Regions from separate parts of the Homo sapiens genome. Here region 1 is linked to region 2. The links come from fine-mapping of genetic effects on gene expression. Tissue or cell type: visceral fat. Region 2 holds a variant in brackets; the other region holds the start of a gene. All regions are shown on one strand. Distances are from middle to middle.

What was found. PIP is the estimated chance that this variant, and not a neighbour inherited with it, causes the effect.
Region 1: ST3GAL6-AS1 starts here. The variant in region 2 is fine-mapped to the expression of ST3GAL6-AS1 in visceral fat (GTEx, PIP 0.90).

What each region holds. Positions count from the first base shown.
Region 1 is chr3:98,728,349-98,736,442 of GRCh38, reverse strand. ST3GAL6-AS1 (ST3GAL6 antisense RNA 1) reads left to right here and starts at 3,792. Exons shown (of 5, transcript NR_046683.1): 1 at 3,792-4,017. It also overlaps a transcript of ST3GAL6 not described here. RefSeq lists enhancers at 2,830-3,577, 3,578-4,326.
Region 2 is chr3:98,684,328-98,692,438 of GRCh38, reverse strand. No RefSeq gene overlaps it. Among named protein-coding and RNA genes, the nearest start is that of ST3GAL6-AS1, 44 kb to the left of the region's middle. The variant A/G (reference allele first, on the strand shown) is at 4,489.

The sequences.
Region 1 (8,094 bases), 44 kb before region 2:
TCTTCTGGGGGCCTTGTTCTCATCATGTCCTAAAGATCTTTCCATTCCCAACCAAATAAAAAGTAAATCAATGTTTAAACCATCTTTCAAAGCCTAGCACTAAATACATTGCAAAGTATGCAATGATGCTATCTGTATACTTTGTCTTAGGCTAAGCATATAAGAAGGGGAAAGAGAGAATGGGGGAGAAGATAACTTTTCACTCAGCTTTCCAATGTTTTTAAGAAAATCTCCTAAGGGCTAGGTGCTTTCCTTTCCCTCTATCTCAATGGTGCAGGAAGAGGAAGGCCCCTGGTCAGATACAAAAGTTTGTGGCAGTAAAAAGGTAAACTGGACAATCCTCCTAGATGACCAAAAGCTCTCCAAGAAAAACAAACATGGGCACAAGGAAGAAAACCAGGTCTTACTGATCCTGTTATCTTTTACTTTCATAACCTCACTGCCAGAATCTCAGCACTTCTTAGCCTGATTATACGACAGTCAAGTTCCTGACCAAGTCTGAGACACTGCAGCTGATTCAGTGCTGAGGTGTCACCATCAGGGGAAAGAACTCCAGCTATCCCACAATGGTGAGGGAATTGTGTTTCTGACATCCTGATATGGAATTGTAAATAAAATTTCCTACCAAAACACTATAATATCCAATGTATACATTCTATTCCATGCATCAAGCTCACTCCAAATCAAAATCCATTTTAACCCCTAAGGGTTAAATTGGAAACTGTGATGTGTGATGTGTGCTATTATCCATCACAGTTGGGACAGACAGGAGAGAATGTTTCATTTCAACTGTGAGGGTGGGGATGTAACCCTGGGAAAACCTCTTCCAGGTAACATATAGCTTGAGTAGGAGCTTCAGTGAAAATGTATTCAGAAAGGAAAGAACTTTTGGAATATGCCCATTGAAGACAGCATAAACTCCTAGATTTCGCCAGACCCTGATCACCTAAGTGACACATCAGAGATGTGCAGAAGATAGAAGGTTCCTGGCTGGTGAAAGTCTAAAGCTGTCACAAGGAAGGCAAAGTACGCAGACCACCTATTCAAAAAGCCCAGCCTGGGGATAACTAGAAAGGCATATTCAGACCAAGGTATATATAAATGGAGGATATGCCAGGCAAAGGAGAAAGATATGCACAGGAAATGGAAGAATTTGTGCAGAATGTATACTGCAGAGGATTCCTGGGATGGTGTAGGCAGAGGTAGAGTCAAACCTTTATGTGAGCCACTGCAACTCAACCTAAGGCAATCTTGGTTTTTTAAGCTATAAAATGGGGCTAAAAATTCCTTTCTTGCAGGAGTTTTGTCAGGAAGATTAAATAAAATAGCATATGAGAACACACCAAAAATCAGAGTGGGTGCCAAATAGGAGTTCCATGCTTCCTTCACCTTCTCAATAAGCATCACCTAAAATGCATACTAAACAGATCTCTGGTCACCACTCCTGGATGGAAGCACAATTTCCATGGAAGCCATCTGGCAGTCTGCATGGTTAGCAGATGATGCTTATCAGGGAAATGCGGGAAACATGGCATTACTCACGTCTTCTCCCATAAGGTTCCACATGATGTGGAACACAGAAATGTCTCCAACAGAAGAAAACTGCTGTGAAATCCAGTCGTCTGCCACTGAATGAGAACACCTACGATTTACAATTTCACAGGAGACAGACTAATGTTTTTAAATGGTATGTCTCTTAATGGTATTATTCTGTCAATACTGTCTATTCTTGAGCCTCAAAGGTTTTTTATTATTATTATTGATATAGGGCATAAGAACAAACTATCTCCAACAAATCTACTGAAATGTAGTCAAAATTGCAGTCCCATTTTACTGCACCATGTAAACAACATATGGTGCAATCTGGGACTGAGACATTGTGGAACTATAGTAAAAATACAATTCAAGGAAAGCGACATCACAAGGAATGAAGATCTCCCCTCCCAGTCTACATGACCACAAGAACAGCTTAGGAAACCAGACCAATGCAACACTTTCTAGAAAAATTATCTTCTTATAAGCAAAGTTGCCATTATCCAAAGACCCTCTGTGGAATTTGGCCTTACTCAGAGACAATAAACTAAATAACAGTCTAAGGGCATCGTTTTTCGCAGATCTTGGTATGAAAAGCGTTCTTAGTGAAACAAAAAGGAAGCAACATAAACCAACTTGCAAATGTCAAATCGGCATGCTTTCAAACGGAAAATAACCTGGCAGCCTGAGCAGATGTTCCCAAATATTTAACATCTCCCTGTAAATAAAAAGACAGTTTTATGGTCTGCAGCTAGGTGAGGAAGATTGAGGACCGGAAAGTCAAACATTCGGGCTAGCCTAAAAGAGGTGGCCGCTGGAGACCCGAAGAGTTACGAGGTTCAAAGGTCAGCGTGGACACGAGACCACAGACCACGAGGAGCTTTCAGCAGATCTACAGTTTCCTTAACTATCCACCTACTCACAGCACCCAGCTGGTCCTCGTAAGGCAAATGGGACTTACGACTTTAGACTCGGTGTGATTTCTGATACACTAGCAGTCACCACGTTATTTTCATCCCTACCCCCACACACTGTTTTTAAACATTACCTTTCAACAGCAACCTCTTCTCCCCCTCCTGCTCCTCCCCACTGTCCCCGCCAACCCTCGCTACTGAAAAATCCTAAAAGAAGGTGCTTTGGGTTTGTTTTTGGTTTCTGGGCGTCGCTTTTTATAGGTTTTCTTTTAAGCCAAAATAACAGCACACAAGAAAGAGGCTTGAGATTGCCGGGATCTCCGGAGCCGGCGGCCTCAAAATGACAAGTTGCTTCTCCCTTATCTTGAAAATTAACAGCAGCCCAAACACTGCAATTTACTCACCGTCCTCCTTTCTCCTAAACTGCCTCGGAGCTTGTTTTGTTAGGTCTAGTTCCATTGTGGAGGGAAAAAGGGTTTCTCGAAAAACTTTATACGGTAAGAGACCAGAACCTTCCAGACCCCTCAACCCTCCTCGCGTACAGACCCTTTTACAAGAAAACAATAGTGAACGAGGAGCTGGACACTCCTCTTGGCTTCCCAATTGCACAACCTCGCCGGCGATTCGACAAAAGAGGGTCCCAGAGCAGATTCTCTCGGCCCCCACGGCTCCTGGGCTTACCCGCGAGGCTGCGCGTCCCTCCCGCCCTTCACTGGGGCTCCAGGATCCCCGGGTGCCCTCTCGGCGGTGGCTGCGGCGCACGCCGGCTGGCTCGCGGGTCCCAGCGCCCATGGTCCCTTTACGCCTCCGCACGCCACCTCCTTGGTGCTGGCAGGATATGTGGAGGGGCAAACAGCGCTCCGTGTCCCCACCCCCAACCCTGAGCCTCAGAGGCTGCAAAGCCGGAGGGTCGGGGCAGCACAGACCCCAGGCCGCCCGGACCCCGGCCCAGACCGGTCTTCCCGCACCCCCAATTTCCCTCACCCGGGCAGTGCAAACCCGCAGCGAAGCCGGCCGGCAAGAGTGACCCGCCGAGGCCCAGGAGCGACGACCGCAGAGGCGCACCGGGCTCCGAGACCTGAGGGGCCGCTGCTCCAGCCGGCTGCTGCCTCTCTCGCGGCGCCTGCCACATCGGGCCGCAGAAGCCCGAGGCCGGCAGAAACCAAAGGAAGGTGGCGCGGGCCAGGGGCGGCGCGGGCACGATTCCTTCCCCGCGGATCTGGCGGGGGAGCAGAGGAGGGAGCAGCCCTGCCCGGAGTCTCAGGCTCCCGCCAGCCCCAATCCCGGGCGACTGCGCCGAGCGCCTCCGGAGTCGCGGGAAGCTCCTCCTGCTCCGCGGCTGGCGCCAGTTGCACGGTGGCCGCCCCCAAATTCGAGGAGGAAGGTGCAAAGTGGTGGGAGGCTGCGGGTCTCCCGGAGGGTGAGGCGTTGGGGACCAGGCGGGAGCACAGCCGAACCCCTACCTTTCGGGCGGGGCGGACACCAGCCGCGCGCCCTCGCCGGGCGCCGGGACCGGAAAATCACCGCGAAGGGAGGGACGAGGAAAGGCGGCGGGTGGCTTCAGGACAAGGTAGGAGGATCGATTTCCACAGCCAAGAAGACACTCCCATCCCGCCCTGGTTTGTTTGGAAAGCTGCAGGAGCTAAAGTGAGGGGTGGCCGGGTACTCCCCTTCCCCGCCCGGCTGGCAGGCGGCAGAAGTAAACACTGAGGCTTGTGGCGCCGCGGACTGACTGTGACACAAGGCTCAGCAGAAGGTTTGGTCCCTATCAGAAGGGGAGGAGTGTTCAGAGAGCTCCTGAATTCCGGGGCTCTGCCCTTCAAGGGCAAATGTGTTCGTACTTTTTATCTTTTGAAGGAGATAAATTACTTTAGGGAGAACGAAGGTGGAACGTGCTGTTTGCGTTTTCTTTTCTCTCCATAGGCAAAACCCTACGTTATTAATGTCCTCTTACTTGGATGGCTCTGAATACTTTTTAAAGTGTGTTTGTCAAATAATTCCTTGTCTAGAAACATTCAAGTCATAGCTCCAACCTTTGGGCCCTGAGCAGTGTAATCACGTGCCATCAATTGACCCCAGAGAGAAGACCCACGGACTTGGATGTAATTCAAAGTTGGCAATGTGTCACGAACTGGAACAAAGTCCTTCATCTGTGATGGGCTTTCTGGTATTTGTCCTTTTTTTTTTTTTTTTTTTTGAGACAGAATCTTGCTTTGTCACCCAGGCTGGGGTACAGGGGCATGATCTTGGCTCACTGCAACCTCTGCCTCCCAGGCTCAAGCGACTCTCCTGCCTCAGCCTCCCGAGTAGCTGGGATTACAGGCTGGGATTACCACTCCCAGCTAATTTTTGTATTTTTAGTAGAGATGAGGTTTCATTATGTTGGCCAGGCTGGTTTCGAACTCCTGACCTCAAATGATCCGCTCGCCTCCACCTGCCAAAGTGCTCTGGTATTTGTCTTAATTGTAATAACAGCCCTAGGAGGTATCATTTGTTGTTTTCCCAACCTTACTTTAAAAAAAAAATGGCCGGGCGCCGTGGCTCACACCTGTAATCCCAGCACTTTCGAAGGCCGAGGCGGGCGGATCACGAGGTCCGGAGTTCCAGATCAGCCTGACCAACGTGGTGAAGCCCCGTCTCTCCTAAAAATACAAAAATTAGCCGGGCATGGTGGTGCGCGCCTGTAATCTCAGCTACTCAGGAAGCTGGGGCAGAAGAATCGCTTGAACCCAGTGAGCTGAGATGGCGCCACTGCACTCCAGCTTGGGCGACACAGCGAGCCTCTGTCTCAAAACAAACAAACAAACAAACAAACAAACAAAAAACTCAATGGGTTCAGATAATTCATATTCTTTGCCCTTTCTACAGATTGCCTTTGACATAACCCACACAGATTTTGTAATTTTAAACGTGGCTCTTGAGACATCAGGATAGTGAAAGAGTTTTAGGGAATTTGTCTATCTGAACTAATTGGTGTTGAGGTTTACTTTGCTCTTTTAATTTCTCCTGGGTTCTTCACTGACCCCTTGTTCATGATCTTAAAAACTAAAACTGTATTTCACCTCATCCACTCTGGCCTTCTGGACTTCTTGAATCTGCAAAGCAGTGTGCTAAGGAGAGAGGCTATCTGCTGTTCTGAGGTGACGTTTGTATTTCATATTTGGTAGTGGCCAGTAGTGACTACTGTTGACCCCAACCTAGTTCAAAAGCTACCTCTTCTGCTGACCTGCTGTGTGACTTTGGGCAAGTGGCATTACCACAGTGGGCTTCATTTTTTGTCAGGTGTAAAGTGAGATAATACAGCTAGTCTTGAAGGGTGATTAGGATTAAAACAGTCTCTGTTGTAAAGAAGGCTTGGCACAGTGCTTGCCCCCAAAACCATCAATTCAGGAAGTAAAATGTTGACTTTAAAAATAACGCTAAAAATATTAACTACCAGTCATTGCCCACCATGAGTCAGCCACCCACCATGCATTGTATCTGTTCCTCTCACTCACCCTGCAAGCCAGTCATGGTAGAAAGGAAGGAACAGAGTCAGGTGGTCTAGGGCTGTGCTGCCTACATTGGAGCTGTGACTCAAAGGAAAGCACCTGAGGCCAAAATCATTGTTCTTTCTGAGATATCACTGCTATGTAACTCTCTGTGATGGGAGGGGCTTTTGATCAGTGTAACATTAATTTTTAAAAATTCAAGATATATTATTGTATGGGCACATGATTGCTATTATATAAATATTTTATATTCCTGTGGAAACTGACAAAGGCTTAAGTAGGGTGATGGAATTAAAAGTTTTTAGTCCTCTCTGGGTTAGTGTTTTTGGTCATTGTTTTGGAGAAAATACCCTCCCAATATATGTATATTTAATTTGGCCTTTTGGTAGAAGATTTCTTCTAATAAGCTGGGAGGGGAAAAGCCACAAAGAAGGAGAGGACTCTTGGGACATGCAAGGTCTTTCAAAGGCCCCTAAAATTATAATTTTCAGGCAGTGTACATATAGGGCTGGCCCTGTTTTACTAGGTTTGTTTTTTTTATTATGGTGGTGCAGTCTCTTTAAAATAAATGCTATTGTTTCATAGACTGTCGCCTCTGCGCACCAGTGACAGGTAGAGGCCAGGTTCCCCACATTACCATGGGAGGCCATTCAGCACTAAATGTGCAGTCTAGAATAGACCAAAGTATTTCCTCCTCATCCCCATTGTAGGGCCTGCCTTCTAAATTCTCCTGTTCTGTGCCAAGTACAGCCTTTTCTGCCATGACTGATGGCAAGAATGTCTACTCCTTGTAGGAGAGACCTACTCATAAGGGTGTGCTCTCAGCAAGACAATCAGATCAGATCATAGTAAGTGAACCCCAGGACTGGAGATACCTATAAAGTGACATGAGGCCACTTTCTTACAACATCCTCTTAGAATAATTTTTAAAACTTTAAATTTTTTTTTCTTTTACAGTACATGATGTTCAAAAGGTTTCTTTTTAAAAACAGTTTTCAAGGTCGAGTTCAATTTTTTTTTTTTTTAATTTGACACATTGGTCAGAGAACATTGAGTTCAATTTTAAACACCATCTAGCTCATGACTGAGCTTGACCAAGCTAATCGTTTTTACATACAATCCTTCCTCCAACTCAAGGAGAAAATCCTGCCAGTGCAGTCTTCTGGCTGTCTTGGAGTTTTATCTCCTATAAGCAATTATTTAAAGAACATGTGCATCTCAAAAATAATAAGCCACAGTAGGTCGGGCGCGGTGGCTCACGCCTGTAATCCCAGCACTTTGGGAGGCCGAGGTGGTTGGATCATGAGGTCAGGAGTTAGAGACCAGCCTAACCAACACGATGAAACCCCGGCTCTACTAAAAATACAAAAATTAGCTGGGTGTGGTGGCGCACGCCTGTAATCCCAGCTACTCAGGAGGCTGAGGAAGAAGAATTGCTTGAGCCTGGGAGGCAGAGGCTGCAGTGAGCCGAGATCCTGTCACTGCACTCCAGCCTGGGCTACAAGCGAGATTCCATCTCAAAAAAAAAAAAAAAAAAAAAAAAACCCACAGTGCCTAAGCAGTATAAATCCTGACTTACAGCTATGACTGTCCACAGTGTAGAAAATGTATCACATTAGCAAAAAGCAGTTTAGTTGCATTAAGCAGAGTCATACTTCTCCAAAATCTCTATTTCAGACTAGAGTCTCAGCTACATTTTTGCATATGTAAATATCCATTGTGATGATTTTTCCAGTATTGTGATTGTACAGAAAAGGAAGTCAAGTCTACCAGGAAGCTTATTTGCAGCTTCATAAATGATGACATCCTCATATTCTACCAGTTTTGTCAAAGTTTCAGGGGTCTTCATTGCTCAGTCTCTTTTACCACAGGCTGGAAGGTGAGGGGAGGTGGGATGGTGTGACTGGCGATAAGTTCATCCCAAACTCCTGAACATGTAGAACATCTGTACAGTGGAAACCGTAAATAGGGCAACTGACAGAAAATAATTGCAATGTATTTTTTTTAAAGGGAGAATATCCAGAATATGTTAAAAAAAATGCCTATGGATCAGTACCAAAAAAAAACCCTATTTTAAAATAGAACACAAGCCATAAACAAGCAATTCGTACAATAAATACAAGGGCCAGGTGCAGTGGCTCACGCCTGTAATCCCA
Region 2 (8,111 bases):
CGGCCTCTGTATAGCCTTCTTGATGCCTTTAGAACAAAAAAAAAAATGTCTGATTGTCACCTATTTGAGGATACAGACCAAACCTACCACAAGAAGTACCACAATCAAATATATATACACACATATATATGCATTTACATATATTTCACAGAATTTTCTATTGGCTAGTGAAATTTATTGTGCTATAGGAGAGTCAAATCAGGAGCTTTTTATATGGGTGCCATGAGAAATTGAACTTAATCTAACCTTACTGAGGACTGTTGACAAATGTGACTAATTGTATGTGCTAGATAGTGTTGGACAACTGTAGGAAGTGCTGACAAAGACTTATGAAGAACAAAATGCCAGTAAGCCTGATCAAGAGGTGTGGAAAACAGGATGTCAGAGTAAGCTCAACATAGCTACTGATGCAAACTGAATAATTGCTTACCGTCTACTGAAAGTGCAATGATGAACTGTAGGTTATAAATAGATCTGAATATCCATCATAGCTTTGTAGCCATTTGCTGACTTCTTATAAGAATTCAGGTTTTTTTTGTGTTTTTTTTTTTTCAATAACAAGCTTAGCTAATTCTATGTTTTTGTTTTGTTTTGTTTTGTTTTGTTTGAGACGGAGTCTCGCTCTGTCGCCCAGGCTGGAGTGCAGTGGCGCGATCTCGGCTCACTGCAAGTTCCGCCTCCCAGGTTCACTCCATTCTCCTGCCTCAGCCTCCCGAGTAGCTGGGACTACAGGCGTCCGCCACCACGCCCAGCTAATTTTTTGTATTTTTAGTAGAGACGGGTTTCACCGTGTTAGCCAGGATGGTCTCGATCTCCTGACCTCGTGATCCGCCCGCCTCGACCTCTCAAAGTGCTGGGATTGCAGGCGTGAGCCACCGTGCCTGGCCAACAAATTCTATGTTTATTAGTTATGAATTTGCCTATTCCTTTGGGCTTTGATTTCTCCCTACCCAACCCACCCGCCCCCAGTGTTAAATAAATATCATTATGACTGCTGGTTTGGAAATGGGCTCAAATTCCCTGTTCTGCAACTAGCGGAAATATCAGATAAGTTTTAAGCTCTCTGAGTTTCAGTTTTCTCATTTGTAAAATCAGAATGATAATAGCTACCTTGCAAGATTGTTTTAAGGATTAGAGGTGTTTGTGTAAAACCTCTAGTATATATTTCTTAATACTCAGGTATTCCATAAATGAAAGGAACGCTGTTTATTATGTTAAGTCAACTACAGTTTTTGGTTTTTTAAGACAGAGTCTCACCCTGTTGCCCAGGCTAGAGTGCAATGATGTGATCATAGCTCATTGAAACCTCAAACTCCTGGGCTCAAACTATTCTCCTGTGCCTCAGCCTCCCAGATAGCTGGGACTGCAGGCATGAGTCACCATGCTAGCCTAATTTTATTTTTAGTAGAGACCAGGTCTCTCTATGTTGCTCAAGCTGGTAACTGCCGGACTCAAGTGATCCTCCTGCCTTGACCACCAAAATGCTAGGATTACAGGCATGAGCCACTGGGCCTGTCCAATTATAGGGTGTGTGGTTTGTTTTTCTCTTTGTTTCTTTCTTTTCTTTTTTTTTTCCTGTTGTTGTTGTTGTTGTTGTTGTGGTTTTTTGAAATGGAGTCTTACTCTGTAGACCAGGCTGAAATGCAGTGGCACGATACTGGCTTACTGCAACATCTGCCTCCCGGGTTCAAGCGATTCTCATGCCTCAGCCTCCTGAGTAGCTGGAATTACAGGCACCTGCCACGATGCACAGCTAATTTTTGTATTTTTTAGTAGAGACGGGGTTTCGCCATGTTGGTCCGGCTGGTCTTGGACTACTGACCTCAGGTGATCCACCCGCCTCGGACTCCCAAAGTGCTGGGATTACTGGCATGAGCCACTGTGCCCGACCTTTCTTTCTTTTTCTTTTTTTTTTTTTTTTTTTTGGTATGGAATATGTATCACCATTTAAAATGAAAGTTGAGGCCGGGCGTGGTGGCTCATGCCCACAAATAAATAAATAAATAAATATTTAAAAAAATACCTGGGCATGGTGGCACACACCTGTAATCTCAGCTACTCAGAAGGCTGAGGCAGGAGAATCGCTTGAAGGTGGAGGTTGCAGTGAGCCGAGATCACGCCACTGCACTCCAGCATGGGCAACAAGAGCCAAACTCTGTCTCAAAAATAAATAGCCAGGCGCGGTTGCTCACCCTGTAATCCCAGCACTTTGGGAGGCCGAGGTGGGCGGATCACGAGGTCAGGAGACTGAGACCATCCCGGCTAAAACAGTGAAACCCTGTCTCTACTAAAAATACAAAAAAATTAGCCGGGCATGATCTCACGCGCCTGTAGTCCCAGCTACTCGGGAGGCTGAGGGAGGAGAATCGCTGGATCTTGTGAGACGCAGGTTGCAATGAGCCCAGATCGTGCCACTGCACACCAGCCTGGCGACAAAGCAAGACTCCGTCTCAATACATAAATTAATAAAAATAAAAATAAATAAAAGTTCAAAAGACTTACTATGGAATAAATGCTTCTGGTACAATAAGTATAGATGGAGGTTACAAAATCTGATAGATTTTGGGGGCCCAAATATTGTCATATTTATATGTCTCATCTTGGAGGGGAGAGCCATCTTGCAAGTATGAAGGTACAGAGCCAATGTACCAAGGAGGGTGGGAGGAGGGTCCCACCTCCTAATGAAATTGCTGAACTGCTCTAATAAAATTAGAAATATTTTTCTCCATACTTCCTGGTTCCACACTTCTCCTGTTTATAAAGCTACTTTTAGCAGTGTATTGTTACTTGAAGCTGAGTGCACACTACCTGACGAAAAAATTTAGTCTTAAGACTGAATTTTTTAAAAATTAATTCTTAAATTTTTCTTGTTTTCCACTACATATTATAGGAAAAAAAAAGAAACTCCGTTATATATATTATATATATTTCCATATATATAATATATTTTATATATATTCCCATATATATAATATATTTTATATATATTCCCATATATATATTTCCATATATACAATATATATTATATATATTTCCACATATACAATATATATTATATATATTTCCATATATATTATATATATTTCCATATATTATATATATTTCCATGTATATATTATATATATTTCAATATATATATTATATATATTTCAATATATATATTATATATATTTCCATATATATAATATATATTATATATATTTCCATCTATAATATATATTTCCATATATAATATATATCATATATTTCCATATATATAATATATATCATATATTTCCATATATGTAATATGTATCATATATTTCCATATATATTTATTATATATATATTTCCATATATTATGTGTTATATATATTTCCACATATATAATATATAATATATATTTCCATATATAATATATATTACATATAATATATATTTTATATAATATATTATATATTTCCATACACATAATATATAATATATTTCCATATATAATATAATATATATTTCCATATATAATATAATATATATTTCCACATATAATATAATATATATTTCCTCATATAATATAATATATATTTCCATATATAATATATATTTCTATATATAATATAATATATATTTCCATATATAATACAATATATATTTCCATATATAATATATTATATATATTTCCATATATAATGCAATATATATTTCCATATATAATATATTATATATATTTCCATATATATTATATATCTGCCATATATGTATATATAGACATATATACATTTATGTACGTATATGTATATATACACATATATACACATATGTATATACAGATATACGCATATGTACATGTATGTATATACACACATATATACACATAGTACATGTATGCATATACACACATATATACACATAGGTACATATATGCATATACACACATATATACCCATATGTATATATACACACATACACATATGTACATATATGTATATATGCACGTATATACGCATATGTACATATACATATATTACCATACATATATGTATATATACATATAGTACATATATTATACGTATATGTATAATTTATTATATTATTATATTAATGAATTAATTAATTCATTCATTAATATATTAATATATTATTATATTATACATATACGTATAATATATGCATATGTATATATACATATATTACATATGTACATATGTACATATACACATGTATACGTATATATGTGTATATATACATATATTACATATGTAATATATGTATATATGTACATATATGTATACATGTGCACATATATATTACATATGTACCTATATGTATATATCTGTATGTATACATATATAGTGGACATATATGTGTATATACATACACATATATAGCGGATATATATGTATATATACATGTACATATATATAGCAGAGATATATACATACACATATATATTTATATTATACTTTAAGTTCTGGGATACTTGTGCAGAATGTGCAGGTTTATTTCATAGGT[A/G]TACACATGCCATGGTGGTTTGCTGCACCCATGAACACGTCATCTACATTAGGTATGTCTCTGAATGCTATCCCTCCCCTAGACCCCTACCACCTGACAGGCCCTGTTGTGTGATGTTCCCCTCCCTGTGTCCATGTGTTCTCATTATTCAACTCCCACTTATGAGTGAGAACATGTAGTGTTTGGTTTTCTGTTCCTGTGTTAGTTTGCTGAGAATGATGATTTCCAGCTTCATCCATGTCCCTGTAAAGGACATGAACTCATCCTATTTTATGGCTGCATAGTATTCCACGGTGTATATATGCAACACTTTCTTCATCCAGTCTATCATTGATGGGCATTTGGGTTAGTTCCAAGTCTTTGCTATTGTGAATAGTGCTGCAGTAAACATACGTGTGCATATGTCTTTATAGTAGAATGATTTATAATCCTTTGGATATATACCTAGTAATAGGATTGCTAGGTCAAATGGTATTTCTGGTTCTAGATCTTTGAGGAATTGTCACACTGTATTGCACAATGATTGAACTAATTTACACTCCCACCAACAGTGTAAAAGCATTCCTATTTCTCCACATCCTTTCCAGCGTCTGTTGTTTTCTGACTTTTTAATGATCGCCATTCTAACTAGTGTGAGATGGTACCTCATTATGGTTTTGATTTGCATTTCTCTAATGACCAGTGATGATGAGCTTTTTTTCATATGTTTGTTGGCCACATAAATGTCTTCTTTTGAGAAGTTTCTCTTCATATCCTTTGCCCACTTTTTGATGGGGGTTGTTTGTTTTTTTTCTCGTAAATTTGTTTAAGTTCTTTGTAGATTCTTGATATTAGCCCTTTGTCAGATGGATAGATTGCAAAATTTTTTCTCCCATTCTGTAGGTTGCCTGTTCACTCTGATGATAGTTTCTTTTGCTGTGCAGAAGCTCTTTAGTTTAATTAGATCTCATTTGTCAATTTTGGCTTTCGTTGCCATTGCTTTTGGTGTTTTAGTCGTGAAGTCATTGCCCATGCCTATGTCCTGAATGGCATTTCCTAGGTTTTCTTCTAGGGTTTTTGTGGTTTGGGGTTTTACATTTAAAGTTTTAATCCATCTTGAGTTAATTTTTGTATAAGATGTGTGGAAAGTGCCCAGTTTCAGTTTTCTGCATATGGCTAGCCAGTTTCCCCAACACCATTTATTAAATAGGGAATCCTTTCCCCATTGCTTGTTTTTGTCAGGTTTGTCAAAGATCAGATGGTTGTAGATGTGTAATGTTATTTCTGAGGCCTCTGTTCTGTTCCATTGGTCTATATATCTGTTTTGGTACCAGTACCATGCTGTTTTGGTTACTGTAAACTTGTAGTATAGTTTGAAGTCAGGTAGCGTGATGCCTCCAGTTTTGTTCTTTTTGCTTAGGATTGTCTTGGCTATGCCAGCTCTTTTTTGGTTCCATATGAAGTTTAAAGTAGTTTTTTCCAATTCTGTGAAGAAAGTCAATGGTAGCTTGATGGAGATCACATTGAATCTATCAATTACTTCAGGCAGTATGGCCATTTTCATGATATTGATTCTTCCTATCCATGAGCATGGAATGTTTTTTCATTTGTTTGTGTCCTCTCTTATTTCCTTGAGCAGTGGTTTGTAGTTCTCCTTGAAGAGGTCCTTCACATCCCTTGTAAGTTGTATTACTAGGTATTTTATTCTCTTAGTAGCAATTGCGAATGGGAGTTCACTCATGATTTGGCTTTCTGTTTGTTATTGGTGTGTAGGATTGCTTGTGATTTTTCCACATTGATTTTGTATCCTGAAACTTTGCTGAAGTTGCTTATCAGGTTAAGGAGATTTTAGTTTGAGATGATGGGGTTTTCTAAATATAAAATCATGTCATCTGCAAACAGAGATAATTTGACTTCCTCTTTTCCTACTTAAATACCCTTCATTTCTTTCTCTTGCCTGATTGCCCTGGCCAGAACTTCCAATACTATGTTGAATAGGAGTGGTGAGAGAGGGCATCATTGTCTTGTGCCATTTTCAAAGGGAATGCTTCCAGTTTTTGCCCATTCAGTATGATATTGGCTGTGGGTTTGTCATAAATAGCTCTTCTTATTTTGAGATACATTCCATCAATACTTAGTTTATTGAGAGTTTTTAGCATGAAGGGGTGTTATATTTTGTCAAAGGCCTTTTCTGCATCTATTGAGATAATCCTGTATTTTTTGTCATTGGTTCTGTTTATGTGATGGATTACGTTTATTGATTTGCCTATGTTGAACCAGCCTTGCATCCCAGGGTTGAAGGCGACTTGATCATGGTAGATAAGCTTTTTGATGCGCTGCTGGATTCAGTTTGCCAGTATTTTATTGAGTATTTTCGCATGGATGTTCATCAGGGATATTGGCCTGAAATTTTCTTTTTTTGTTGTTTATTTGCCAGGTTTTGGTATCAGGAAGATGCTGGCCTCATAAAATGAGTTAGGGAGGAGTCCCTCTTTTTCTATTGTTTGGAATATTTTCAGAAGGAATTATACCAGCTCCTCTTTGTACCTCTGGTAGAATTCGGCTGTGAATCCGTCTGGTCCTGAGCTTTTTTTGGTTGATAGGCTATTATTTACTGCCTCAATTTCAGAACTTGTTACTGGTCTATTCAGGGATTCGACTTCTTGGTTTAGTCTTGGGAGGGTGTACGTGTCCAGGAATTTATACATTTCTTCTAAATTTTCTAGTTTATTTGTGTAGAGGTGTTTATAGTATTCTCGATGGTAGTTTGTATATCTGTGGGATCAGTGGTGATGTCCCCTTTATCATTTTTTTATTGTGCCTATTTGACTCTTCACTCTTTTCTTCTTTATTAGTCTGGCTAGTGGTCTATTTTGTTGATCTTTTCAAAAAACCAGCTTCTGGATTCATTGATTTTTTGAAGGGTTTTTCGTGTCTCTTATCTCCTTCAGTTCTGCTCTGACCTCAGTTATTTCTTGTCTTCTGCTAGCTTTTGAATTTGTTTGCTCTTGCTTCTCTAGTTATTTTAATTGTGATGTTAGGGTTTCCATTTTAAATCTTTCCTGCTTTCTCCTGTGGACATTTAGTGTTATAAATTTTCCTCTAAACCCTACTTTAGCTGTGTCTCAGAGATTCTGGTATATTGTGTCTTTGTTCTCATTGGTTTCAAAGAACTTATTTATTTCTGCTTTAATTTTGTTATTTACTCAGCAGTCATTGAGGGACAGGTTGTTTAATTTCCATGTACTTGTACGGTTTTGTGTGAGTTTCTTAATCCTGAGTTCTAATTTGATTGGACTGTGATCTGAAAGACTGTTTGTTATGATTTCTATTCTTTTGCATTTGCTGAGGAGTGTTTTACTTTCAATTATATGGCCAGTTTTACAATAAGTGTGATGTGGTGCTGAGAAGAATGTATATTCTGTTGATTTGGGGTGGAGAGTTCTGTAGATGTCTATTAGGTCTGCTTGGTCCAGAGCTGAGTTCAAGTCCTGAATATCCTTGTTAATTTTTTGTCTCATTGATCTGTCTAATACTGACAGTGGGGTGAAAGTCTCCCAGTATTATTGTGTGGAGTCTAAGTCTCTTTGTAGGGCTCTAAGAACTTCCTTTATGAATCTGCATGCTCCTGTATCGGGTGCATA